7 separate regions of the Homo sapiens genome follow, and regions 1, 2, 3, 4, 5 and 7 are each reported to be linked to region 6. The links are microRNA targets in miRTarBase. Many come from high-throughput screens and were not tested one by one. Region 6 holds a microRNA gene; each other region holds the end of a gene's coding sequence.

Evidence for each region. The annotated mature microRNA hsa-miR-5582-3p reads UAAAACUUUAAGUGUGCCUAGG and lies in region 6 at 1,099-1,120, shown strand. An mRNA with a match to its seed (bases 2 to 7 or 8) in the 3' UTR can be bound and repressed. Matches are read on the target gene's strand: a 7mer-m8 pairs with bases 2 to 8, a 7mer-A1 pairs with bases 2 to 7 and ends in A, and an 8mer does both.
Region 1: miRTarBase lists IGF2BP3 as a target of hsa-miR-5582-3p. Seed matches in the 3' UTR shown: 7mer-m8 at 3,265-3,271, 7mer-A1 at 2,896-2,902, 7mer-m8 at 2,498-2,504, 7mer-m8 at 2,022-2,028 and 7mer-A1 at 1,664-1,670.
Region 2: miRTarBase lists PTPRB as a target of hsa-miR-5582-3p. Seed matches in the 3' UTR shown: 7mer-m8 at 805-811.
Region 3: miRTarBase lists PDZD8 as a target of hsa-miR-5582-3p. Seed matches in the 3' UTR shown: 7mer-m8 at 2,359-2,365 and 7mer-m8 at 947-953.
Region 4: miRTarBase lists EML6 as a target of hsa-miR-5582-3p. Seed matches in the 3' UTR shown: 8mer at 757-764 and 7mer-A1 at 1,122-1,128.
Region 5: the mRNA of CPOX is a reported target of hsa-miR-5582-3p. Seed matches in the 3' UTR shown: 7mer-m8 at 860-866.
Region 7: miRTarBase lists LMLN as a target of hsa-miR-5582-3p. Seed matches in the 3' UTR shown: 7mer-m8 at 3,091-3,097 and 7mer-A1 at 1,107-1,113.

Annotation. Positions count from the first base shown.
Region 1 is chr7:23,308,991-23,313,071 of GRCh38, forward strand. IGF2BP3 (insulin like growth factor 2 mRNA binding protein 3) reads right to left here. Exons shown (of 15, transcript NM_006547.3): 14 at 3,745-3,858; 15 at 1,219-3,470. The coding sequence ends at 3,372. It overlaps MALSU1 (mitochondrial assembly of ribosomal large subunit 1), which reads left to right. Exons shown (of 4, transcript NM_138446.2): 4 at 366-2,739. The coding sequence ends at 553. Among named protein-coding and RNA genes, the nearest start is that of MALSU1, 12 kb to the left of the region's middle.
Region 2 is chr12:70,518,181-70,522,261 of GRCh38, forward strand. It overlaps PTPRB (protein tyrosine phosphatase receptor type B), which reads right to left. Exons shown (of 34, transcript NM_001109754.4): 34 at 1-3,331. The coding sequence ends at 3,309. PTPRB-AS1 (PTPRB antisense RNA 1) reads left to right here. Exons shown (of 9, transcript XR_001749196.2): 4 at 1-4,081. Among named protein-coding and RNA genes, the nearest start is that of PTPRB-AS1, 52 kb to the left of the region's middle.
Region 3 is chr10:117,279,937-117,284,017 of GRCh38, forward strand. PDZD8 (PDZ domain containing 8) reads right to left here. Exons shown (of 5, transcript NM_173791.5): 5 at 1-4,081. The coding sequence ends at 3,332. Among named protein-coding and RNA genes, the nearest start is that of SLC18A2-AS1, 40 kb to the left of the region's middle.
Region 4 is chr2:54,969,543-54,973,623 of GRCh38, forward strand. It overlaps EML6 (EMAP like 6), which reads left to right. Exons shown (of 42, transcript NM_001039753.4): 42 at 529-2,483. The coding sequence ends at 553. It overlaps RTN4 (reticulon 4), which reads right to left. Exons shown (of 9, transcript NM_020532.5): 8 at 4,021-4,079; 9 at 2,647-3,656. The coding sequence ends at 3,614. Among named protein-coding and RNA genes, the nearest start is that of RTN4, 79 kb to the right of the region's middle.
Region 5 is chr3:98,577,191-98,581,190 of GRCh38, reverse strand. It overlaps CPOX (coproporphyrinogen oxidase), which reads left to right. Exons shown (of 7, transcript NM_000097.7): 7 at 421-1,745. The coding sequence ends at 508. Among named protein-coding and RNA genes, the nearest start is that of CPOX, 14 kb to the left of the region's middle.
Region 6 is chr11:46,750,164-46,754,244 of GRCh38, reverse strand. MIR5582 (microRNA 5582) reads left to right here and starts at 1,053; the gene lies at 1,053-1,120. CKAP5 (cytoskeleton associated protein 5) reads left to right here. Exons shown (of 44, transcript NM_001008938.4): 37 at 748-935; 38 at 1,535-1,610; 39 at 2,711-2,899; 40 at 2,990-3,127; 41 at 3,634-3,717; 42 at 3,812-3,971.
Region 7 is chr3:198,038,233-198,042,313 of GRCh38, reverse strand. It overlaps LMLN (leishmanolysin like peptidase), which reads right to left. Exons shown (of 17, transcript NM_001136049.3): 17 at 1-3,747. The coding sequence ends at 3,647. LMLN-AS1 (LMLN antisense RNA 1) reads left to right here and starts at 2,847. Exons shown (of 4, transcript NR_046669.1): 1 at 2,847-2,865; 2 at 3,090-3,167; 3 at 3,456-3,566; 4 at 3,651-3,993.

The DNA of each region.
Region 1 (4,081 bases), not on the chromosome of region 6:
GATACAAACATTCTTGGATAGTCAAAACAAAAGGCAGTCAGTGTTTTTGCACAAAAGATGTGCAGAAGTGTGTTACCCATGGAGAATTGTCACCGAAGAGAATCCTGACACCATTAGTCTCTTTGATAAAGTTACTATCACCAGCAATGTTATATATTGACATATGCCTCCTGTAGGTACACTGAGAAAGGCATAGCATCACTTCTGTGGTATTTTTGCTGGGATGGAGTCCACAGTGATGCTAATCTGGGAACCACACTTGAGAACCACTGCTTTATTCCTAGAGTTAGCCAGTGTGTGTTGTAAGGTAAGAATAAAAGCAAATGAACTATTCCTTCATTGTATCTCTTATCTGTCCCTGACAGGCAGCATGGTGATTCATTTGATGCTTCCAGAAACCAGAGAAATCTATGAATTAGAGAAATTATGGACCCTACGTTCTTATGATGACCAGTTAGCTCAGATAGCACCTGAGACAGTACCTGAAGACTTCATTCTTGGAATAGAAGATGATACTTCATCTGTGACTCCAGTGGAGTTAAAATGTGAATAAAATATTTTATGCACTGCGTTAGTCATTTCAGATTTGGATTGAGTCACTTATTGGAAAATACAGCTCCTAAAGTCCGTCTCCTTGGTTAGGCTGCTCTTAGGACAAGGCTTGTGTACCTCATGGGCACTCCTGCTAACTGGCATGCAGAGACTGTCGATAAGTGAGCTATACCTGCAACCAAAAATCAGTACATTCTACCCAAAACTTATGACACGCTGCCTTTATCCTGGAAATGTCATCAGAATTTCCTGGAGTTAGCACTGGCTCCTGTGCTTGACTTCTCTGCTCAGATTTTTATTAATTTAATTTAGCTTAAATGTAAATCTTAACCCTGTTTGTTTAATGGAATGGCAAAAATTTTAAAAAATAATATAAAACATAGCCCACTGGTCTTATTTTTATACTTTGAGGTGATAATATTCTTCTAGGAGGACTTCTGTAACCCTTCCAGAATACTCCAGTAACACAAGAAAGTAAACAAAGTGTTTGTTAGGAAAAACTCTGAACGCTCTAGTTCTTAGTTCATATGCAAGAGTATTATCAAGGTTCACATTAAGTACCATGGCTGGACATGGTATAACAGAAATCTGCGTAGAGTTTGAAAAAAAATTCAGAACATTCCCATTCAATTGAAAACCAAAAATAAAACATACTACACAACAAGCTGCACCTAAATGATGAAAAAATTTATTCTGCGTCAAGGTATCTGGAAAATGAAGCTGCATTTGGGGCACATTATACATGAGGAATGATCCATATATGGTGAGTACAAAACTCAATTATAGAATTATTTCTTAGCTAGTACCAGATACTCCAAATTACAAATGCTTAAGTAAAAGTAAAATATGATTTGCCATACTAAAAGGCTAGAAGTGAAATATGACAGAATTTAAACCAGCAGATATAAATGCAGCACCTATGTGTATATTTTTAAAAAATCAAATATTGGGGAAAAAAATCAAATACTGAGAAAAGCTCTGGCCTTAAACACATCTTACCTGAAATCCAACCAGAAAGCCAGTCCATGATTTTAGCAATTTTAATTCATTGTATGAAAAAAAAATCATGAATGCTAGGAGAATCCAGTGACAAAAAGGGCACTTTTTTGGTTAAAACTACAAAAGAAACTTGTTTTCAGAGAACATTAAGGAAAACACTTTAAATCATTTTCAAAATGTCTAATTGATCTTCAGAAAAACATCTAGTCTGTATAGAAATTCATCTTGAAATAAGAATGAGGCAGTGATTTTTTTTTTAAAGGGTTATATATATGTCCTTTAGATCAGTGTAACATGACTGTGATCATCTTACAAACAAAACTCAAAAAATCAATTCAGAGAGCAGCGTGGCCTTGGAGACCACCCACACCCAACACAATTGTACGTACTGGGCTTTGCTGTCAAGGAGTGAGCAAATGAGTTCGTTATCAAAGGTCATATGTTTTCACAGTCATTCAAATTATATCCCAAAAACTTTTCTTGTATTCTCTATCTTTTGACTTTTTTTTCAAAGAACTGATTGCACAGTATACAGAAATCCTGTTATACTTTACTACTTAAGGTGGAGTCTAATTTTTTTTTTTTAATTTATCAGTGCTTAAAAATCTTCAAAATAGCTTAGTGAGGCTCATGACAGTGCTGGCCCCATGGAAATGTAGCCTTTTGTTGCGTTTAAACACTGTCACACCATCTATGACTGTCCCATTGGTCTGAAGTGTAGTGGCAAACTAAGCATCCTATAAGACAAGCTAAAGCTTGCTTTTTGCCAGTCAGTTGAAAGTCTTGCATCTCTTCACTGATGCACTTTCTTTAGGTATTGATAGTCAGAAGCACAAAGCATTTATTATGCATTCAATCATGTAGCTAAACAAAAAACTGAAGTCTCCTGAAGCCATTTAAACCAGCCGTTCCAAAATCTCCTGCGACCACTTTGTTAGTACCGTCAAAAACTTTCCCAACTATAAATGAAAGAATAAATGGTAGTGCTGCTCTCCAGATACTAGGCACTGCTCCGTATTTTTGAACATTTGATTTAACTAATAACTGTGTCAAAAGCCTCAAAAAACCCTGAAATTAATTTTCCAGCTTTACTGTCACCAGCCAGAAGTAAAAATCTTAATTTGCCTGTTAGCTGATTGCTGTTAAATTTTAAATTTATTTTTTAAAAAACGGTTGGACTTCTATCATTATAAAGTATATAAAATTTTCAAAAAAAAGGAACAATTTTGCTTTTCATTGTATTACTGAATACCTGAGGTAGTTGAGTAAAAATGCACGTTTAATACCCCTGCCAACACCATTCAGCACTTCCCTTAGGTTACTCATGTTAGTGTTAGGTAAAAATAAAACTGAGAACAGTTTTTCTATGCTAATGGCTTAACATTTAAGTTCCTGTGATAATTATTCTGATCCAATTTTAACAATTGGATTTAGGAGCAATCTATTTGATGAATTTAGTGAAAGCATCATTAAGCCAATTTCTGGCATTATGGGGGAATATTAAGAAGAATTAGAATATCTGTTATACTGTGAGACTACAACAAAGGGAAGTGCAGAGCTCTTCTCTTTCCCTCCCTCCCCCACCCTTTTTTTGTTTGTTTGTTTGTTTGTTTTAAAGCTGGGTGTCATACATTTCAGAGAGCATAAAGTATACATTCTCACAGAGACAGGAGTTCAAAAGTTGCCTGGTCCTCAGAAACAACTGGCTAGGTAAAAACTTGTGCATGTGATTCTGGATAGGGGGTCAGCGCCCATCTGTTGGTTAAGCAATCTGTCTTTGGTTTGGCATCTGCCTCTGTGGTGGGCTGTTTCCTGAGCCTTTACTTCCGTCTTGACTGAGGTGGTCCACTTTGCAGAGCCTTCTGTTGTTGGTGCTGCTTTACCTGAGTCAGAATTTCCTGAATTTTTCTCTGGGCAACCTAGAAAAGGACAGAGCTTTGAAATTCCACTTGATCAAAAGCTACTAAAAGTTATTGTACTCCTTCATTTCAACAATTTCAAATAGAAATCCATTTGATGATTAAAGATACATACTAGTCAGTTTGCTAGTAGTCTCTGAAATCACCCGCTAAAAGGGAGATGAAAAGTCTTAAGCATCAAACAACCTTAACTAATTCTATCAGGTAGGAGCACCTGTGGGAGAATTGCTTCCACGTGAGAAAGATACAATAGCTTATTTTAGAGCCCACTTGCCTGGCAAGCATAGAAGTGACCAGTTATTTTGACAACCACTTGGTCATTCTCATCAGGTGTCTGGTCACGAGGGACAACAACTTCTGCACTTGACAAATTCTGAAGTTCATTCACCTGAAAGAGATAAATATAAATCACATTAAGTGGCAGTTTTAAAACCTTACTTCCTAAGCACTTACTGTGCGCCAGACAGTGAGCTATGTATGGCTTTACAAATTTCATTTAATCCAGTGGTAATTCCATGAGGTTATTAGAATTATCCCCACTTCAAGATGATTAAGGCTCATCCAAAGAAACTGATTTGTCCAGTTATACAAGTGAATGGCAAAACCAGATT
Region 2 (4,081 bases), not on the chromosome of region 6:
CTAGCACTTTGGGAGGTTGAGGTGGGTGGATCACCTAAGGTCACGAGTTCAAGACCAGCCTGGCCAACATGGTGAAACCCCATCTCTACTAAAAACACAAAAATTAGCCAGACATGGTGGCAGGCACCTGTAATTCCAGCTACTTGGGAGGCTAAGGCAGAATCGCTTGAACCTGGGAGGCGGAGGTTGTAGTGAGCTGAGATTGTGCCACTGCACTCCAGCCTGGGCAACAGAGCAAGACTTCATTTCAAAAAAAAGTGAAATTATGGTCATCTCTTTGATGATGTGGAACCTGAAAGGACTATGAAATTATACTCATGGGTATAAAAGATAATATGAACAGTAGATAAAAATCACATTCAACTGGGAAAACAAACATATTCAAGTAGGAGGAGTGGGGCAAGTAATAAAACAGAGGGACTCAGAGGTTTAAGGGATAGAGAATTACTTAGGACAAATATGTGCAAGCCCAGGTAAGAGAGGTGAGTCTTTGAAAATTCTGATTCAAGAGCTGAACAATTGGCTGCTTTCCAGAGAACAACAGAATGACAATACAAAATTGATTTAATGAGATGAGGTTAAAGGAGTTAATTATAACGAACTTGGAAAAATAATTATTAAGATGCTAGATGGGACTCTCCCAAGATTTGATAGCTCAAAAGCACTTTGAAGTCTTGATGATTAAAGTGTACTGCACAGGTACACAGACAGGATGCCCACCAAGACAGGAAATGGAGTGTTTACCAAGACATAACACATGATGCAATTAAATGGAAATAAATCCAATAGAGCTGAATGTCAAGGAAAACTTTTTTTTTCTCCTAAATTTAATAAATAAGTCAATTATATATTTAGTCTTCCCAGGAGTAGGAGCGAATAGTGAAATATTTGTTGCTAAGAAGGTTTAAAATTAGGTGTAGGGTAGGAATAAACATTTCCTGGGTTGGATTAGACTAAAAAAACCTACGATTTTTCCCTGTCATGTCCATTTACATAATTCTGATACTACCCTAGATGTTGCCAGAGTACGTGAGTGTTATTTACTATTACAGATGCATAGGTTTTTTTTATGGTTTTAACTCCTGGTTTGTGCAATTAATTGCTCTCTCTCCTAGATCCAGAGGTTTGCTATTAAAGTAGCATTAGCACTTTCCAGTGTGTGGCCTGTGGAAGGTGACCACTGTCCTAGACTGGCTCAGTTATCCCATTCCCTTGATGAGGCTGTCTTTTAAGCTCAATTGAAGGTAGTAACAACAATCCTAACTTTATGAGGATTCTCTTTATGTGAGTAGAAATGTGTAGATTCTGGAACAGTGCCTAGCAGGTTGCAGATACTTACTAGAAGTTTTCTGAGTGAATGAAAAGTCGAAAATGAATGTATCCTTCCAAGCATTAATGTGCTTTGCATCAAGCAACATTAGTGTAAAATTCTGCTTTTTCTCTTTTTTCTTTTCAATGTAGGAAAGGTGATTTCTAATGGATGCCACACGTTGTAGATCTCTGACCTCTATTTTCTCGCTGGTGGTACATCTACTGCACTTACACATATGTTGTTCCTTTTCATTTCCAGAAGATTCACTTAGTTCCTTGATACAGAATCAGAGCTTAAGACTGTCATTTCACAAGAGCATTGAGCACAATGAAACTGTGAATCTTTGAAGCTTATGATTATGCTTCACATTTTTGTAAACTTCAAATAACCTTGGAAAAATTTCCAGATTGGGTGTAGAGTTATTTAATTATAAAGAACTATTTTAGGTATAGTCAATGATTTTCAATTATTATGTCAATTACATTCGTTGTATTCACTTACGGACTTTATGGTAGGTTACAAAAATATATACTTTGAAAAGAAATATACTCTTTATGCAAAGGAAGCTATGCCATCAACAAACTTGACCTCTAATTCCCAAGTTTATTACAGAAAAATTTGTAGTGTGAAAAAGGCAAACATCTCCAGCTCATCTTCTCAGGTATCTATGAAGATTCCGTACAAACTCCTTTCAAATTTTTCCCAGGAATGCTGTCGGAACTGGACCTTGATGAAGGAAATACTTTCTGACTCATTGGAATTTGTTATAGTCAAAGTAAGTAAGGCACAAATATTGAAGATAAACTTGGTACAGTATGTAGTGCCTTTTGTTATTAAATGCAACTTTGGGTGATTACTTGACATTTTGACTTCATTGATTTACTAAAAGAAGTTTTGAAAATTTTACTGAAGACCACTGTTTTTGTTTTTGCTATTGTTTTTAAATTTACTATATATGATGTTTGTAGTCATTTCTATGAAAATGTTGGCATTAAGCCTTTTAATGAGGGGCACAATCTGCTACCATAATATTCTTTTAATGGGAAATCAAGTAGGAATGGATAATTGTGACTTTTCTAGGAATGGAGACCACTGAAAATGAGACAGAAACTAGTGTGTATAAATACATTACAGTATGGGTGTGGATGTTCACACTCCACACCATGAATGCAATGAAAGGATCTCTAATCACTGTAGATAGTGCTTTGCATGTTATGTTTCCAGTCTGGGTATAGCTGGCATCTTATTAACAAAAGGAATTCATCACTTCTGTTTGGAATCATTCTCTATCAGAACCCTCAACCCTGCATCCTACCATCCTGGGCTTGCACTGCAAGTTACATGATCCCTGAGCTGACCACTTTGGCTTGAATCCCTGGAAGGAGAAAGGAGAGAGAGAGCAACTAGTTCAGACACAAGCATCTAGTTCAGCTTTGGTACTGCTTAATTCTTTTTTCTCCCTCCCTCTAATCCTTTTTTTGACTGTCACATTTGTCCTAATAGCAAGTTAGGACATGTCTGTTGGCTCTCGAGATTCATGGGACAGCAATGCAGCAAATCTAGCCATAGTATTTGCTCTCTCTAGCCCTGCCCTTTTTCCTGTCCAGTGAATATCAAAACAGGTAGAAAACATGGCCTGAAGGATTGTCTCTGCCACCACCTCCATATGCATTTTACCAGTAGTCCTGTCATACAGGTTGAATTAGTTTTATGTAGAACAAGTCATGAACACTTTAGTGTGGAAAAATAGTATTATATAAAGCTTAATATTAAACATTATGAAAAATACATATTTACAGAAGAAACTACAAAATACAACTATGTACAATAATATCTGTTACCTTTAAATTATATAAAATTTTAAACATTCTCCAGATTAATAAATTATACATAGTATCAACAGAAATAGCTGGCACCTCTGTAGGGCATGAAGCAAGTTTTTAAAAACAAATCACACAGTGAATAATTTTTATCCAGGAGCTCTTCAGGTACATTCTCAATGCCTTGAATAGACTGGATCTGAAAGGAAGAACACTGTAATTAGAGACTGCCGCAGGGTGTGTCATAATTGTTTACGCTGTTTATGAAAATTACCAATGTGAAAGACCAGCAGAAACATATAGCTCAACCTAGTTTAAGATGAGACCATTCCTATTGGGACCAGGTAATTCCATTTAGAAAGACAGATTATTAGACTTGGAAGGGACTAGTGATTCTAGCCCATCGCCTCTGTTTTTATGGATGAAGCCATAGGCCCAGAGAGGCAGAGTAACTTACTCAGGGTTACACAGCTTGTTACAGCTAGTTAGTTCGAGAGTTCGGACCTGAATCTTAGCCTTCAGCTACGTGGTGGTTATCCTTTTCTATACCATAGTTAGCTTCTTTCAGGAGTGCTCAAGATTACTCTAAAAAAAGATTCTTAAGTCAAAACAAGACAAAGGAACCTCCAAGATCCCTCAGAACTTGCTCATACTGAAGCCTCTTAAGGAATCTCCCATGCAAAAACCTTAATTTACTATACAGATCAATTAGGGTGTAATTTGTAATTATTCATAATACAAAATAATTATCTGATTTACAAAGGACTCCTCTAAATAGTAGCTCTTTATTTGTGCTTTACAGATGCTAACTCATTAACATACTGGCTAGGCTGGGTGGTAGAGAGAACTAAGTAAAAGGTTAGGAGACACTACCTGTTGAAGATCATTTAGAATGGAGATAAGAGGGTATGAAATAATGTTTGTCAAAGAAAGATTATCTGATTTATAG
Region 3 (4,081 bases), not on the chromosome of region 6:
GTATTTTTAAAAGTAGGTATTTAAAATTTATTCACTTTTAGGGGACTTAACATTTTATTATTTATCTTATTTTTAAGAGCCAAATATTTCCAAATTGCTTTAAAAAAAATTCAGCTATACATTTAGAACTTGATAGTACCCCTCAAAATTTTTAGGTTGTGTTTTCTCCTCCCAGCATCACAAAATAGCCACTTATTTCAAGTACTTCTGATATTGAATATAAGGCTTGATATGAAGAAGTATAGCCTATTATGATTGCTAATAATGCTAAAATGTTGCTCAGTTTGTCTAAGCCATTCACTCAGCTAATACTAATGTAGAAAATATATTTTAAAGTCTAATTACTAATACATAGCCAAAGGAAACCCATAAACTTGATAATCCATAAGGAAACAATAGTAAAAAAATGTTTTGGGGCAGTCTGCAAAACAGCAATTTTGTTTAGGAAAAGTGGACTTTGTTATGCTTTTCTGCATGGCCAAATTATACCAGAAGATAATTCCATAGAGATGCAGCAATCACCTTTTTTAAAGATTTCATTAAATGAAGATATTCTTGTTTTCTGTGGTAGTCTTTATTATTATTTTTTAGCTATTGATACATAGCATGGCAGCAAGATTACATCAGTAATGTAATATAATACAGCTTTTTTCATTGAAGCTTTGTACCTTACTATACTCTAGGCTATTTGGAGTGTTCCCCCACTTGCACTAAAGTACAACTATGATGTCTCTACTGCCTCTCCCAGTGAAATATAAAAATATTGCACTACATTACAGATATAGTTTACAAATGTCATTAGCAGCATTACTGAGCTTTCTATAATTGTGGTCTACAGAGTTAAATACTTTTAAAACATGAGTAGATTCTTATAAAACCAAAGTTTTGCATTATTTCAACAGCTCTTTCAAATGCATCAGTTTCAGCAACATGCTTGGGTATCATGAAAACTTCCATGGTTTAATCAATAAACACCAGCTACTTACAAGTAGTCCACCTTCCAGGTTATCAATGGTAAGTTATTTTTTATAAAGTGGTTACACACTGAGCAGATTGCCTCAAGTGTAAGTTATGGAACAATACTTTAGCTTTCAGGGAATTTGGTGTGTAAATTCTTCTATAGCAGTGTTCTTTTAAAATAAGATCACGTGGCCGGGCGTGGTGGCTCACGCCTGTAATCCCAGCACTTTGGGAGGCCGAGGCAGGTGGATCACGAGGTCAGGAGATCGAGACCATCCTGGCTAACATGGTGAAACCCCGTCTCTACTAAAAATACAAAAAATTAGCCGCGCCTGTACTCCCAGCTACTCCGGAGGCTGAGGCAGGAGAATGGCGTGAACCTGGGAGGCGGAGCTTGCAGTGAGCCGAGATCATGCCACTGCACTCCAGCCTGGGAGACAGCGAGACTCTGTCTCAAAAAAAAAAAAAAAAAAAAAAAAAAAAAAAAAAAAAAAAGACATCACGCTTAAATAAGTAATGAAGTATACTGAGATGTTTTTGTTATAAACTTGGCTAAGAAAGGTATTTAGTACCTGAAATTTTCGCTTACTAAAGTAACAAAAGGCATGAGACTTGGCTATTGATTTTTAAAGTGGAATAACTTTTCTCCCCTCAAAAATGTCTTTCTTACTCATATAAATAATGCCTTTTACTTGTATATCTTTTTACTGTTCAAAGCACTTTTGCAGTTATGCTATTGTTTCCCTCACAACAATACTGTGAGGGAGGTAAAGTATTATTATTCCCATTTTAGAGATGGGTCCTTTTGTAACTGCCTATGCTTACACAGTTCATTAATGGAAGGGCTTGAACTTAAACTCTTTTATGGAGTCCTGGAGTCTAGACCTGGGCCCCAGTCCTTAATATTACACCATGCTTTTTCCTGCCAGCAATAAAAGCTGCTCCATCTAGTTTTAAACTCATGTCAGTTTCACTATATAGCAATCATCATAGCAGTTACCTACAAAGGGACAAACATATACTTGTCTATTTTATAGGTATATAACAGACCGAAACCATTAAGGTACCCCAACAACAGTCGAGCTTACTTGTTTTCCCTCAGTCAAATGTTACTGGGACCCGTAAAATGGACCCAGTGTGAGTATATCTTCATTTTCAGAGAACTGGTCCCAATTCCTATGTATGAATACTATTTTTGTCATTCTTTTCTTAATGAATACTCACTACAGAAGTATTCAGAATGATCACCATTCCTTTACAACTGTAAGACGCCAAAGCAAAAAGTATATTTTGCATGATTCCTTTCCTTCACAGAATACTCCTACATGAAAATGTTTTTTCTAAAACAAAACCAGCCCAAACTAGTTATCAACACAGTCATTTTAAAAAGAGTCCTCCAAAACTTTAAATACCCTTTCACATGCTTTATTTCCTATGGGAGAACTGATGAGGAAAATTATCATAAATGTTTAAACTTTTAATTATAAAATTTAAATTTCCATTTAAAAGGAAAGCATCAATATTTTAAAAGATTATATTTCAAAATGCTATGTTACTGTTTTTCAGTAATTAAGTCTTGTTATCCTCTCTACAAAATTCTTGACCAACTGCAATCTACATTTATTTCCTATTACATTGTCTTTCAATGTAAGCTCTTCAAATTAATCACCATATTTTTACCATACAGCTGCACAAAAGCTTTAGAAAAAAATTTCACAGAAGCATCGAAAGCAAGCAATATATGTAAAAAATTTTTTTTTACTAAATCAGCATAACAGACTAAAGCTGCAGCATCTGCTTTCATGTTACATTTGGCAAAAACAAAACAAAAAGCACCCCCAAACCCCCAAAATAACAAAAATCTCAAGCAAGTAGAGACGATAAACTTCATAACACAAAAGAAAGATTCAAAACCTGTTCCCTCAGTGATTGCTGTTGTCAGTTTGGGCATGCAGCAAATTTGTTATAACCATGATGGAAATGAAAATATTTTAAGAATCTAGACAGTATTCTATTTAACACTAATTCAAAAACCAAGAGGAAGAAAAATAACACAAGGGGACACCATACATACATAAACATGAAAAGCTAGCTTACATAATTACATAATTAGAAAAGTTAAATAATTTAGTAAAAATAAATTCCCAGTATAAACCCAAAAAAGCATAGCTATAAATGCAATCCAAAACAACCAATTAGTAAGCTGGTCATGTTTTTACTGGAAAACAACCTTTCTCATTTTTGTTCTTACACAAGCAAGTAACTGGAGAAGCAGGCCAGAGTGCATACGAGGATTTAAACATGGTTGTATCTGTGGTACTTTAGATGCAACTTTACCCTGTTCATTTGAAAGCTTAAATAGACCTGTCTGCTACACAGACTCGGATGGGCCAAATAAGTCATCTGATATGCTGCTGAATGGCTGAGAGTCTATTAGTTGGCTTATTTCATTATCAAGGTCTTCTTCTGTATCATCTGTGTACTTGCTTATTTTTTTGGAGTGCTGGTCTAAAGACAGACTTTCTAAAGTTTCTATATCTTCAATGCCTGCTCTGTAGTGAATCATAAGAAGTGTTAGAGCTTGTAGCCTTTCACCTGATTTAGCTAAGGCAGCAGAAAGAAGTGATTTTTTCCTTGTATCAGTTGTCTCTTTTTCTTCTCTAACAAGGGAATTATTGTGTTCCAACTCCTGATCAATTTCATTCTGTAGCTTATCCAACATGAACTCTAGTTTCTGGATCCTTTCCTCTGTAGGCAAGCCCCTGTACAGATCACGACCAATTTCTTTAACTGCAATGAAAACACTGTCATCCAGACCACCCTCTTTTCTCACTAACTTTATTCCTGTGCTGTTTCCCCGTTTAGAAGGACTGTTTGGACCACAGACCTCCGTGTCACTGCCTTCGTTGTCTGACGTGTTGGGTGTGTGTTTTGGTGAAGGTTCTACGAGATCGGTTCCTGGTTCAGAAAGGCGAGTTTTAGAGACTTGACGCAAATTTAATAAACGAGAACTAGTATTGATAATATGCCTTGTCAAACCTGTTGTTTTATTGACTGACTTGCTAGCTTCAGCATCAACACGAGGAGGCAGGCCTAAGAGGGTTTCCTGTCCTTCCAGCCT
Region 4 (4,081 bases), not on the chromosome of region 6:
CCCTTCAAAGCAGCACCAACCCAATTGTGAACAAGCTAGGAGTAAAAGACGTAAATGAATTGGTCACCCCAATGCAGGGGATACAGACTTGTTTTAATATAAAAAAGAAGTGGCCTTAACCGTGCAGGGCTTGCAGGCCTTTGTAGGCATGGGAGCATGCTGTGATCCCTGGTTCTGTGCTAAACACTCAAAAGGGCTCTCTGACTCAAGTGGAGGTGATAAACCTTTTCAATAGTAACAGGAGAGAGTGTGATATCAAAGTGCCAGAAGTCCTCACGGACCAACATTTAGCACAGACATTCAAACTGCTGAAAGAACCAAACAGAACTCAACTGAAAAAAACAGACCTTTTAAGAAAAGCAATAGATCTTAATTTGGTGGCAAGATCCCTGGTTTACCTTTTGAAGTCAAAATGTTCAATACATCACCCGAGCTTGACTTTTGAGCACTTGGCAAGATTGTTTTTTGCCACTTGACACAAGTATGATGTCCAGCTATGCAAAATGACTGTTTGATCTGCCTTTTCAGTGTATTTGTGTGGCGATGTCTGTAAAATGCCAGAAGCCTCTTATGTTATTGCTGCTGCTGCTACCAGCCAGCAACTGCAGAGGCCATGCTGAGGTGCCTCCTTGCCACCAGCCGTTGGGAAATGCCTACCATGCTGCCCCGGATGCACAAGCTCAAAACGCTGCAGAAGTTACACAACTGCTCCCATAATCTGGACTCTCCAAAACCGTGATGCCACGAAGGAAGGTCAAGTTTTAAAATGTTAAAGACTGCTTGCCTCTGTTCCTGAGACTAAACAGTATACATACTAACTACATTGACAAAGAAATCCTATCTGATAATGTAGCCCGCTGACGAATTTTGAAGCCTCGGTTACCCTAACCAATATGTAGCTTTTAATTTGCATCAAAACTTTTACAAAGATGTTTTGCTATTGTTTCTATATACTTCAAGAATGTTCATTTTTACAAATAAGTTGAACAAGACAGCCTAAGTTAGATGCACCGAAGTACTAGAAATATCGCTAGCCTCTGTTCTCCAGTTTAGCTTTCAAAACCAAATGAGCCATGTATAAAGGAGTTGAGAAACTTAATTTTTAAATGTTTCATTTGCAGAGTTTTATATCCATTAAGTGCCTTTGAAAGTTTCCAGTTGTGTGGGCTGCTGTCTCACCTCCCACCAATTTCTCCTTTCTCCATATGGTGCTAAAACCTCAAAGCTGAGGAGGGCTGCAGGACCCTTAGCAGATTCAGTGTGTCACCCTTGTCCTGTGTTCACGCCAAGGCTTCCTAAATGAAAGACATCGGTTACCTGCTTATGGGAAGGTGAGCAGCAAAGGAATTGAAGTTCGGGACAGGGTAGAATTATGGGTTTTCATTGTGTTTCATGCCAAACCCACAAAATCCAAAATAGAATTCAAGTTAAACAAACTTCTACTACAAAATGGAAGGGGAAAAAGGCTCAGGAAGGTCTATGAGAATGAGCTGACTTATCTCGTTAAATCTTAAGATAAATGAGGGTAACCCAAGGCTGCACCTTGGTGTACCACCCTGAGTGGAGTTGAGGTGACTTCATTTGATTGCTTCAGGCGAACTATATAGGTCAAGTCCAGATTATAAAAAAATTATCTGCAGAACAAATTGTAAACCCAAGGAATAGCTGGTAAATCAAAATTATAAAGTGAGTTAGAGTTCCTTGGAGTTGGTTGTATGACGGAATATGACTTGGACAATCTTTACCAGAAGCCATCCGTAAGCCCCTCAGTCACACTTTCCATGTAGCTGACCAGTGACTACAGGATGTGGCTGACAGTGCTCACTGAAAGGAGAGTTGGTGCGGGACTGGTGGTTCTGAGCACATAGACGCCTATTAGTCCTTCTGGTCAGTGAACGAAAATTCTAGACCTACAGTTACTGGCTACTTGCATTTGTCAGTTTAGAGAAAAGGTAAAATGAGGCATTTTCAATTGTAGAATAGACTAACATTTACCACAGAAGTGCTTCAGCATTCTAAATGGATTAGATCACTCATTAAGCTATTTTTATATGCCAATTTACTAATGCCTTACATCAATCCACTAATAGGTTGTTGGGCCCGCAGTAGAGTCCCTATGCAGTCCCAATTCTGTTTTCTGTAACCATGTGACTGGTGATGCAGAGTGATAACCATGTCTGCCTATCTTGTACTAGACTCTTCATGCTGATCGGATCTTGCATTGAAATAACCATGTGGAAGAACAATGAATCGATTAATGATGACATGTACAACCATATTTAAAGAGCAATAGTGTCCGTGTGTCATGAAAAACTTATTTGTAAACGTTTATATGGTATGATTTTGATTTTATGTATGTTCATAAATCCTGCACTGTATGATATATGTGAGTTAAAACATTGGTGCATGAATTTATTTTCAAAGTATAAAACACATCACTTAAACATTTTATGTGTCAAATAAAATTTGATTATGTAAACACATTTGTTGACTTTTGTTTCCACAGTAAACAAACAAACAGCTGCACCATCAGCTGAAAAAAACCCTTCTAAAAGCACAAGCTACCATTCGCTGGTTGAAGCAGTTTACCCACTGTGTGCATTTTTAATCTGCTGCAATTTCATGAAATGAAAATACCAAAGCATATTTTAAGTCTATAAGCTTTATTGATACTTTGCTTTTACAGTTCACAATGCATTCCACAGATTTAGTTCAGTACAGCTTAAACCACAATGGTATAAATCTTCATTTTGTAATTAATAATTTCTTGCATAACAATGTTTGATATTTGCAAACAAACAACATTTTTGGAAGCATTAGATTCAGTCCATAGATTCTGTGACAAAATTAACTACAGTCAGTCTGTGCAATGAAATTGATGTTGGAGTTCTATGTGTGTGGCATTTCATGTTGAAAACAGATGGTAGTGCTCCTAGAAATATTTCTTCTTCTAGCTTATGTGCTTTGGAACTACACATGTATAACCAATGACTGACTCTGAAATATCAAGCACTGTGGGGTGGCTGGAAGGTAAAGGTCTAAGCTTTGTGAAACACTATACATATATAATCTATATTTACTTATATTGGCAATTAATATAACAGTAAAAGTCACAATACACCTAGAACATACCAGAAAAGCAAGCTTTGTCATTCCTGCTTTACCGGTATGATCTCGTCTAAACAAACATTTCATTTCAGAAAATCTGCATCAATCTACACGGACCATACACAGTGCACAAACTGAAAAGGGCTTTTTTTTTTTTTTTTCTAGCTCCACCATCTCTGCAACTTGCCAAGATGCGGCAAGACTATCTGCAACAAAGTAAAATATACAGGTTTTTTATTCCACCAGTGCCTCAGATAGATAGGAAAAAGATATGATTACGGTTTAAATCCATACATAGCAGCTTACAATACTTAAGATGATGAACACATGGCAGTCAAGACAGGTAATTTTTCCTCACAACAGTGCATGGCTAAAAATAAAGATCTAACAACGATCTGTGAAACTGCACTGCAACGTCAAGGTTCGTTCTTCCCTGACCCTCCCCCGTATAATCAAATGAATATCCCCTTTAAAGATGAACTCCTACTAATTATTTTGGGCGTTTTCATTCAGCTTTGCGCTTCAATCCAGGGATTTTTGCTTGGATTCTGAAAATGAAAAAGTCAATGTAAATATCAGTTTTGTTTGCTGCTGCTTAAAATACCATCTTCCAAGAACTACTTGTATGTTATTCAGCTAATACAATAAATGAAATCCTTAAAGCTGCCTAATTCTAAGCTATAATTTTGCCACCTTGGCCTCATGAATTAGATTTAAACAAAGCCTTAAACACATAATAAACCCAGAAACGAATGGTCCAAATGTTAGAAAAACAATCTTTTGGCAACTCTGAAGTCACACTTAAGGTCTGATAGAGATTTGTTACTCATTATGCCTGCAATATGAAAATACTGTTCTCACAATCCAGCACACCTTATCCTAGTAAAAACACTGCAGATTTTAAATACTTACTTAGCCATAGCATCTTTAACATTCTTATTTGCAAGTCCTAGATAATGATCTATCTGTGCCT
Region 5 (4,000 bases), not on the chromosome of region 6:
ACTAGAGGGAGAGAGAACACAGGCTGAGTCATGGTGGCTAGGAGGTGAGATGGACCTTCTCTGCCTATTTGTTTTTCTGAGAAGAGGTATGCATAAGTATTAAGCTAAAGAAGGTTTGCCCATGGATCACCTGAGTTTCTACACTATATGAAACCCTGGTTTATATTAAAGGTGTATTTTGGCTCTGGGATATTAATACTAGCCAAAGCATACCCAAGAGTTGTTAAGAAACTATTTGTTTGGCAAATAGTTTTTTTAAAGGTCAAGTTGGTACAAGGCACATCAGGCACAGTAGAGACAAAGAAGTATAAGGCTTTTTTTTTTTTTATTCTTAGGATTTTATTTTTCATTTATTTTAAGTAAAGAGGTATGTGTGTCATTTTTTATGACGTTTTTTGCTTTTGTTTTGGACATGCATAGATGGGAGTACATGCATTCACCCTCAGAGAATTCCAAAGAAGCTGAAATTCTGGAAGTTCTACGCCATCCAAGGGACTGGGTGCGTTGATGCAGGCAGAATGGCTGTGCAGGGGTTTGGAGGGCACACGATGTGTGCTCCCCATGCCACTGGTCGGCACTTTGCCACTGTGTGGCAGTTACCCGTGCCTTAGTCTTCTCCACTCTGCACCCTACCTCGTGGGCAGATGATAACATGTTTTGGATGCTGTCAGTGATGAATGGTGAGATGGCAGATTGTCAGAGTCAATTGATTAAACCTCATTTATACTTCTAGTGTCATTTTATATGACTAGTTTACAAAATAGGACATTGAGTTTCCAAGTATTGAGATAAGGGAATATAAATAGTATTATATGTATCAGGAAATCTCTCATCTTGTTTTTGTTTCATGTATTTTTTAAAGTTTTCATTTGTGCCACAAAAATCTGTCGTGGAATATATTTTATTTTCATTAATTCAGTGAAGTTGAGACTTCATAGTAATTTTAGAATGCAACTTGAAGGTAAAAATTTTACTTTGTCAATACTGAAGTCTCTGCTGTAATCCTTATATATCTTTCTCCAGAGAACATAATATTGTCAAATAGATACACATTTTTCTAATAGGTATTTAGAAGCACTTGAAATAATCTCTGCATGTGTTACAATTCAGTTATTTCTGTAGTTTGTAAACTCTAAAGTGACATTACTATTATTTTAGAGATGTCTAAGTTGTAATTTTGATTTTTGTGGAACCATTGTTTGTTAATGTTGGGATTCTCTGCACTTTTGAATGTGAAAGCTTATATCCCTGAATTCTGATACTTAAGAGTTTTCTATTTCAGACATCTCTGTGTGGAAGTTGAGACTAAGAATAATCCTAGGGATGTCATGAATTTAGGCAATGTTTCTCATTTGGAAAATGAAATGAGAAATAATTTCCTTCTTTAAAGCAAGTATATATAGTATGAGAAACTTGGAGGCATTTCATACACACGTTTCTTAGGAAAATGGACACATTGAAAATGTCCTCTTTTTTATATTAGAGATTCTGCAGCTCTTTGCTCTTAAGAGCAAATCACAACAGGATTCTTAATGTATGATTTCTTTGTTCATATATTATGAATGTATTATTTTATTTGCTTCGTAATAAAGTTTATAAGGAAGAGCATCTCATACATATCATTATCGTGGAACACGTTGAATGTTTGTGATTCTGTGTGGCCTTTTTGGGGCTGGAAAATGTATGAATTCTTCAACTGTCTTACAAGAGATCTGCTAATAAATTTTATTATTAAATAAGACTAAGAAATATTTATATTTTTTGTTGCCAGGATAATATAGGAAAACGCATATATTTCTTAGTACAGTTGATCCTTGAACAACATTAGGGCTAGGGGCCCCAACTCCTCCTTACTGCATGCAGTTTCAAATCCTTGTATAACTTTTGACTCTCCCAAAACTTAATCACTAATAGCCTCCTGTTGACTGGTAGCCTGACCAATAACATAGTCAATTCGCACATGTTTTATGTTATATGTATTATATACTCTTCTTACAAGCTAAAGAAATGAAAATGTTATTAAGGAAATCGTAAGAAAGAAGATATATTTGCTATTCATTAGGTGGAAGTGAATCATCGTAAAGGTCTTCATCCTCATTGTTTTCATGTTGGGTAGGCTTAGTGGGAGTAGTAAGAGGAAGAGTAGGTCTTGCTCTCTCAAGGGTGGCAGAGGTGGAAGAAAATCTGCGAAGAAGCAAAACTCTTCAAACCTGTGTTGTTCAAGGCTCAGCTATGCTAATGCCATAGTTCCTCATTCCTAGGTATTTTACTCAAGAAAAATACAAGTTTTGTACTCAATTTTCATAGCAGCTTTATTCAATAGTTGAAAATTAGAAACAACCCAAATGGCTAACAGCAGGTGAGCAGATAAACAACTTGTGATATATGCGTATATTAAAATACTAAGCAATGAAAAGGAATAACTATTGCTAATGACAGTAACATGGGTGAACATCAGAAACATTATGCCAAGTGAAAGCCACACATAAAAGTACTTACTATATGACTACATTATAGGAAAACCTAGAAAAAGCAAAGCTTTAATGACAGAAAGCAGATCAATGGATGGCAGGGGTTAGGGGATGCAGATTTGTGAAAGGGGACAAAAGAGTATTTTGAGGTGATTTAAATGTTTTACATCTTGATTGTGATGGTTACTAGACTGTATATACATTTATCAAAATTCACTGAACTTAAAATGGAATTTTATTGTATATGTGAATAATACTTCAATAAATCTAATACTAGGAAAAATATAGGCATATAGGAACAAATGTTCAGATCAACCTCAGTTTAGCTTTTAAAAAATAGAAAATCACTACATAGTGATGATATAATGCTAAAATGCTAGCCTATTTAGTTGTGTTTAAAGCTGTGGCGGGTAAATGAAGATAAAATTTTTCTGTGCATTTGTTTTCAGTTCTTCAATAACCACGTATTTCTACTATGGATTAGACTATGTCTGAAAAGAATTGCATAACTACTGGAAAACAGATTATCCTACTGTTATTCAAAGTGAATTTCTCTTTCAATTTCTTACTGGTGTTAATTCAGTCTACCTGAAGACCACAGTGCACCTCCAGATGGCCTGAACACCTAACTGTCTTATGCATGCAGGTTCATGGTAATAAAGGGTGTCTGGAGGGGAGAAATGTCAATTCTCTGGAGCAAATTTTTAACCACTATTTTCTGTTCATCACTGTACTCTGCTGACCCTCCTAGTCAGCAGAGTATTTGAGATAAGTGCTTCTGCACGCTAAGGAGTACAAGATTTGAAAAGCCAAATGTTTCTTTATGACTTATCCTTCCATGTGTCTTTTGCTGTTACAATATTTAGAGACAGGAATCTTCTGCAGGTTTTTGACTTGCATGTCTGTACATAGGTGAGGATGACTCAAAGGCTCAGCTCATCTTGGACTGCAGGCTGCATTGCCTATGGGTGGCTCAGAGCACGAATTCCATGGAAAAAGGCAAAGGCAGTATGGTGGTTTTCTGTTCTAACCACTGAGGTTATGTAGTGTCACTTTCTTCACATTCCACTGGACTCCTGACAAGTCTGTCATTAAGGACAGTTCCAGATTCGAGTGGTAGGGAATTAGATCCCAGTCATCTTCAAAACCTCCACACAGCCTTCCACACTCAAAACCACGAAATAGATTGGACTCAACCCTCCACATTGCCCTAATTAGTTCCTGTTGAGTCCCCCTTTGAAATGGCTCCTGGTTTCCTTCCTCTGCCCTTTGCCACCACCCTACTTTAGTCTCACATACTTTCTCATCTGAACTTTTGCAATGCTCTCCCTGCCTCTGGGCACTCTGACCTTTCCCTCTCTTCAGAATTATTTTCCTAGGTCCCATTATCACCACCCTGCTGAAATAGTCAAAGAATCTCCTCTCCAGACAGAATTCTAAAGTCAGTCTGACATTCAAGCAATCCACCATTTAACTCCTACCTCGTGTTTCAGGCTTATCTTCTACATTTCTCTGTGCACTTCAGTCTC
Region 6 (4,081 bases):
CGGGTGGATCACAATGTCAGGAGTTCAAGATCAGCCTGGCCAAGATGGTGAAACCCCATCTCTACTAAAAATACAAAAAATTAGCCAGGCCTGGTGGCGGGCGCCTGTAATCCCAGCTACTCGGGAGGCTGAGGCAGAGAATTGCTTGAACCCAGGAGGCGGAGCTTTCAGTGAGCCGAGATCGTGCCACTGCACTCCAGTCTGGGCAACAGAGCAAGACTCTGTCTCAAAAAAAAAACAAAAAATTTCACAATTAGAAGCACACCGATTAATTTTGCCTATTACTAGAGGCTTGGGGGAGTGTGGTGATTTTGTTTTTTCTTTAATACTCTGAATTTTTACAAATATAACATAGCCGGGCGCGGTGGCTCACGCCTGTAATCCCAGCACTTCAGGAGGCCAAGGCAGGTGGATCACGAAGTCAGGAGATCGAGACCATCCTGGCTAACACGGTGAAACCCCATCTCTACTAAAAAAAAAAAATACAAAAATTAGCCCAGCGTGGTGGTGGGTGCCTGTAGTCCCAGCTACTCGGGAGACTGAGGCAGGAGAATGGCATGAACCGGGGAGGCAGAGCTTGCAGTAAGCCAAGATCACGCCACTGGCACTCCAGCCTGGGCGACAGAGGAGACTCCGTCTCAAAAAAAAAATACAACATAATTGAATATTTATCAGAATATGCCACCCACATTTCTTTACTCTCTATATTGAGTTTTACACCTCCCTGACACAAGTATGTCTGGATAGCTGTTTCAGATAGAGAGCCTTGCCCGGGAGGCCTCCACTGGAGTACTAAAAGACCTAATGCATGGCCTCATCACCTTAATGCTGGATTCTCGGATTGAAGATCTTGAGGAAGGACAACAGGTCATCCGCTCTGTGAACCTCTTGGTGGTGAAGGTTCTGGAGAAGTCAGACCAGACCAACATCCTGAGGTATATCTGTACTCTCAGCCAATAGAGCCTGGGGCATCCTCGCTTTTGTTTACACTTAGAAACCATAATGTCCGTAAGTCAACTTCCTAGGCAACCTAACAATCATAATCAACTTCCTAGGCACACTTAAAGTTATAGCTACATCAGTTATAACTATATCAGTTAAAACTTTAAGTGTGCCTAGGAAGTTGATTTATTACTCTTCTTCATCATGGACCAAAGGTATTTTAGCCTGAGACCATAGCTAAAACTAGTAAATACTTAGTTAGCCAGCCAATATCATGCATTTTCTATAATAGGACTGTAAAGTTTGTCAGTTACATTTTTCTTGTACATTTCAGGTACATTTTATTCTTTCTCAGCTACCAATGACAATGAAAAATAGAGTCACAAACCTTACACTTACCAAGTGGTGACTTAAAAGGCTTAAACAATGTTTATTTTCTTAACTGAATGTCAGGTAGTCCAGGACAATTCCTGATCCATGACCTCTCAGTTTATTAGATGAATAGAGTAATCTCACTTGCCCTTTCAACTGCTGATTCTAATTGGAATGCAGGTTTGAAACTTAATGCTGTTGTGTTGGGTTTTTCTTCCAGTGCCCTACTTGTTTTGCTCCAAGACAGCCTGCTAGCAACAGCCAGTTCTCCCAAATTCTCAGAGCTTGTTATGAAGGTGAAGTTGAAATGATTTGATCTCTTTTCTTTCAAAGATGCAATCACTTTGTTAAAAGTATGGGGAAAGAGGAATTGGAGCTAAGAAAGACATAGGCTCAAATCAACCAAGTCACACCTGAAAATATATTTTTCGTAATAAAAATATTAATAAATTTTTAAAAATTTAGCCAGGTGCAGTGGCATGCACCTATAGTAGCAGCTACTCAGGAGGCTGAGTTGAGGAGATTACTTGAACCCAGAAGTGAGCTTGATCATACCACTACACTCCAGCCTTGGCAACAGTGAGACCCCATCTCTTAAAAAATATATATATGGTTTTTTATATATATGTGTATTATATATATGTATATATGTATTATATATGTATATCTTAATATGTTATATATGTATATAATACACGTGTGTGTGTGTGTGTGTGTGTGTGTGTGTGTGTGTGTGTATATATATATATATATATATATATATATATATGAATTGGTCTTCAGTTTTTCCCTTCCTACAATTTATATTCTAAGTTCAGGCCTAAACAGTTCGTGGCCTCAAACAGTGAAAGGGAGGAAATATTTTGTAAATATTTTACTAATTCTCTGAGGATCAAAAGGAAAGAAGTTTGAAACAGATTTCATTTATTTTGGGGAAAAAGATATCTACAGCCCTATGATATTTGGTCTCTTTTGTGAAAGAGACCAAATGAACATATTTATAACATTGTAATACTGTTATTACACTGAATTAGTATCAGATATTTTGTCCCCTTGCATTAGATTTGGTTAAGCAACATGAACTACTTTACTCTCAGGAACGAAGGAAACCCAAGAGAGAATTTCTACCAGGTTAAATGATGGCCCCTAGCTCTGGGGAGTGGGAAGGAGTAGAGATGGATGATTAGATGAATGACTGGACACACTTCAGCTGGTGTCATGGTAGAAGTGATTAAAAATTTTCATGTTTTAGCAGCTGAACTTGAAAGATATGATGTGCCACATTTATAGCCCTGGCCATCTTTTAGAAGTGAGCTCAAAGCTTAGGGAAGATGAATGGTGACAAATTATCCTCATTCTTCAGTCACTCCTAACTCTTTTATTCTTTTTTCAATAGTGTCTCTGGAGAATGGTTCGACTGTTGCCTGATACCATCAATAGCATTAACCTAGACAGAATTCTTCTGGATATCCACATTTTCATGAAGGTCTTCCCCAAAGAGAAACTGAAGCAATGCAAAAGTGAATTTCCCATAAGGACCCTAAAGACCCTGCTACACACCTTATGCAAATTAAAAGGGCCCAAGGTGAGTAAGAATCGCAACTGGTCTCTGAGGGAGCTTGAGAGAAAATCATGGAAATGGCAGTGCTATCAGTCATGCATGTGTCTCCCTCAGATCCTGGACCACCTAACGATGATCGACAACAAAAACGAGTCTGAGCTGGAGGCCCATCTCTGCCGGATGATGAAGCACAGTATGGACCAGACTGGGAGCAAGTCTGATAAGGAAACAGAAAAGGGAGCATCTCGAATAGTGAGTGGCCTGACTTGAAAGATTGAGGGACATGAGGCTACACCGGAAGTGATCTTATCTAAGGTGTAGGTCACCAGGATATGCTTTCCGAAGGTCCAAGGTGAAGGCTCATGGACTGGTTGAATCAGTCTCCTGCTGTGGTGCAGTAACCATTTCCACCTTGAAATTTTAAAATCTAAACTAAGTATAACCATGTGTTTTTTGGTCCCCAAGAAAGATGCCTAAGGCATTGGTCACCAGATAAATAGCTAGTTCTGCTTAACATGGAAAGAATATGTCAGTTCCTTCTCCATCAAGTTGAGGTGGAAATCTGAGACTGGAGGCATTCAGTAACACAGAATGTTAGTGCTTCTGCTGCAAGACCTGCATCATCGGTGCATCTGTTATCTGTAGGAACATACCAATAAGGCCCAGATTTTGAGATATTTTCTGTTCATATCCAACCATCAGTTCCTAATTAATAACTCAAGTCTAACCAATTCTTCCTATGTCTTTCAACTTTTCAGGATGAAAAATCATCAAAGGCCAAAGTGAATGATTTCTTAGCTGAGATTTTTAAGAAGATTGGCTCTAAAGAAAACACTAAAGAGGTGAGAGTGAAAGGGTTAAGCAGAATAGGGGTCTGCTTTATGGTAAAGGGACACTAACATTCATCCCCACCTCTTCCCTTTTCCTGTTCACCAGGGACTAGCAGAGTTATATGAATATAAGAAGAAATACTCAGATGCTGACATTGAACCATTTCTGAAAAATTCCTCACAGTTCTTCCAGAGCTATGTCGAAAGAGGCCTTCGGGTGATTGAGATGGAGAGGGAGGGCAAAGGTCGTATTTCCACTTCAACAGGTATGGTTTCCTGTTATAGCTCCAGGAATAAGCTCAAAATAGCTCCTAGCACAGGAACCTGAAGTTTTGGTTAGTTTAAATTCATATCCATGAACCTCAATACTTAATGG
Region 7 (4,081 bases), not on the chromosome of region 6:
TCTCGTGATCTGCTTGCCTTGGCCTCCCGAAGTGCTGAGATTACAGGCTTCAGTCACCGCGCCCACCACTACCATATTCAAAGTGACTAAAATGTGCCTCTTAAAATCTCTGACAGGTTCAGTGTCCTTCTAAGTCTTGCTGGGTACACTATGCAGAATCAATGATGAGTAAAATCATATTCAAGCCTTACTGAAGAGGACGGGAGACATCAACACAGTTACCCTGAGGAACTCAAGACTTTATCCATACTTTATCCAGTTTCACATTTGTCCAGAGAAAACACTGGGCGACCAGGTTCCCAAGCTTAATAAATATATATACAAAAAATGTCATCTATAATATTTTCTTCAGAAAGCCATTAGTGCAAATATAATTATATCAATAAAAAATAAAGCAAAAATATATTTCAAGTATAAAAAGCACCATGCTCAGAAACAATACTACCTAAACGGTGCCACTACACAACAGTCAAAATATAGTCGAACCTATCACTGTGACTCTCAAATATATGATTAATTCATTGTATTTTTGGTAAAATTCTTCATTCAGCTTTGCAGGATGATTCATAATCATAAGAAGTATATGTTTAGATTATTGTAAGTTTCTTTAAAAATAGACTCTTTGCTTTGACTTTTAATTTACACAATTTAAAGTATGTACAACATAGGCAGAAAATGAGCACTGGCCCGCAGACCATTACGCAGGTTGAGCATCACTTACTGAAATGCTTGGGACCAGAAGTGTTTCAGATTTCAGACTTTTTTTTGGATTTCGGATATTTACAGATACCTAATGAGGTATCTTGGGCATGGACCCAAGTCTAAACATGAAATTCATGTTTCATATATAACTACACACACTGCCTGAAGGTAATTTTATACAATATTTTTAGTAGTTTGTGCATGAAACAAAGTTTGTGTTAAGTACTTGTATGTGGAATTTTCTACTTGTAGTATCAGGTCAGCATTCAGAAAGTTTCAGATTTTGGAGCAATTTGGATTCTGGATTTTTGGATTAGGAATGCTCAACCTGTATTAGCTTCTTTTTAGTTAAGTTGACTATGTTTGAGATTCCCAGCTTTTCACAATGACAAATACCTCCCATTTAAAACTGCATGCAAATACATACTTTAAATTTATGCATTTGAAAAAAAAGCGACTTTCCTCTGTGCTGGGGTTGCTGTTGGCTCTAGTGCCAAATAATCAGAATTAATTCTTAGTAATTATGTTGCTTTGCTCACTTAGCATAATTTCTTCAATGGAGTACTGAATAGCTATATGCTGAATGGACGAAAAGCAGGGAAGGACGAGGAAAGGAGGAACAGAAGGAGTCTGTCCGAGGGTTGTGGTTACAATGCCATGGAGGAATAGGAGGAGTCTGTCCGAGGGTTGTGGTTACAATGCCATGGAGGAATAGGAGTCTGTCCGAGGGTTGTGGTTACAATGCCATGGAGGAATAGGAGGAGTCTGTCCGAGGGTTGTGGTTACAATGCCATGGAGGAATAGGAGGAGTCTGTCCGAGGGTTGTGGTTACAATGCCATGGAGGAATAGGAGGAGTCTGTCCGAGGGTTGTGGTTACAATGCCATGGAGGAGTAGGAGGAGTCTGTCCGAGGGTTGTGGTTACAATGCCATGGAGGAGTAGGAGGAGTCTGTCCGAGGGTTGTGGTTACAATGCCATGGAGGAGTAGGAGGAGTCTGTCCGAGGGTTGTGGTTACAATGCCATGGAGGAATAGGAGGAGTCTGTCCGAGGGTTGTGGTTACAATGCCATGGAGGAATAGGAGGAGTCTGTCCGAGGGTTGTGGTTAGAATGCCATAGGACTTCATTAGCTTGAGAGAAAGAATGGGCATCGCCTATCATTCATGAATATATTTTTTCTTTTTTCTTTTCATATTCTTGTTAAACCTCATCTAGCCATTAAAAATTACTAAATGGGGCTGGTAAGCTCTAGTACCAGTGTAAAATTGCTTCTGGGGACCGGAATCTATGTAGTAACAGGAGGAGTGTCAAATGCAGAAGGTAAAGGATATTTAAAGCGAAGGCAATCTTCCAGCTTCTGTGGACTGAGTCTTACTTAAAAGTGGTACAGTGGACGCTACTGGATAGGCTCTACACCAAACTTATACCTTGCTATTAGTACACAATTCAGACCATCCTTCTTAAACATAAAACCATTTTCAGATGTTAGAAATTCTTCTGCAACAATTTCTTAACCCATTTTAAAAAACTGCATACCCGTCTTTACCAGAATTTCTTTTTATCTTCATCGGTCACAAAGGAATAGTTGTGTTTTTGTTGTTTCACAGTTGTCTTAAGTATTATCTAAAACAATACAATTATTTTTTTTCTGTTTGCATGTCTTCCATGTTTTTACAGGGCAGAGTATTTTACTCTCTCGGCTTCCACATTTTTTCATGTCATTATTAAACTCATGGAGAATACAACCAGAAGCTGAGCTCTGAAGAGGGATGAATACAGAGGGCTACCAGCACAGTGATAGCAGTTCTGGAAGCTGGGCTCTGAGGAGGGATGAATAGAGGGCTACCAGCACACTGACAGCAGTTCTGCCGTAAACTGCCACATAGCTGGCAAAAAGGGCAAGCACGGTTAAATCATAAGATTTAATGAAACATTATTTAAAAAAATTCTTTAGAACAATGGGAACAGTGAATTAAGTTTACTATATACCAGCCATTAATTTTTTTTTTTTTAAGATACAGGGTCTAACTCTATCGTGCAGGCTGGAATACAGTGGTGCAATCATAGCTCACTGCAGCCTTGAACTCCTGGGCTCAAGCGATCCTCCTGCCTCAGCCTCCCAAGTAGCTGGAACCATGCCTGGCTGCCATTAAATTTAAAATAGGTATAATAATGATATGTAGAAATCCCAATTCCATTATTTTCTATAACTCAAAGGACAATTTATACTTTTGAGGACAAGATCTCCAATTCTAATCTTGCAATAATTGGCTGTTGTTTAAGTGACTGCAGTATATGGATGATGAACTTTCCCATTGTTGTATGTTAATAAAAATGTTGAGGTATGTAATCACTCTGAAAATTCCACCCATTATCCTATTTTCAAAGGAAAACTTTGGGAAGATTACAAACCCTGAAAAATGAAGACTTGGTGGCTTGCAGTTCCTTCTCCTTCTCCAAGATGAGGTGGTTGGGTTGCTGAAGAAGGTGGTTGGTTTGCTGATGAAGGTGGTTGGGTTGCAGATGAAGGTGTTGAGTTGCTGATGAAAGTGGTTGGGTTGCAGATGAAAGTGGTTGGTTTGCTGATGAGGTGGTTGGGTTGCTGATGAAGGTGGCTGGGTTGCTGATGAGGTGGTTGGGTTGCTGATGAAGGTGGCTGGGTTGCTGACGAGGTGGTTGGGTTGCTGACGAGGTGGTTGGGTTGCTGACGAGGTGGTTGGGTTGCTGATGAAGGTGGTTGGGTTGCTGATGAAGGTGGTTGGGTTGCTGATGAGGACAGGCTGCTGTGAAGTTCTGCTTCAAGGTCTGATGGTCGTCAATTCTTCCAAGCCAAAGCCAGGAATGCCACTTCTACCATCTGCATAGGTTGGCACTCACTCAAACTTTGTGCTTTGTTCACAAGAACATAACATAAAAGAATATCTTGAAGATCCACTTTTCCATTCCTAGTGCCATATACACAGAAGAAATCCAGCCAGCAGAGGAAACAGATTGCCTAGCAGAAGCCAGAGGGTGACCACCAGGCTCGAGGAACAGGAACAAAGATCTAGAGTTGAAAACAAAAAACTGACTTTCTATAAACAATTTTGGGATAAATCATACCAATTAAATATTGACAGATGAAGAGCAGTGATTATTAAAAAGTAAACAAGGACCACCTTGAGAGCTAAATCAAGAGCAAAACCCAGGTATAAAAAAGTTTTTGTTTCTTTTTTAATGGAGGAAAAATATATATGGAGGAAGAAATGATGTATCCACTATGTCAAGGTTAAAAAATGGTATCCAAAAAAAATTGCCTTGGGGTAGTACCCCAGCAAAGATAAAGATCTTGGTTATTCTGAGATGGGGTGAAGAACTTTCTTCTTTTATTCTTTCTTTGT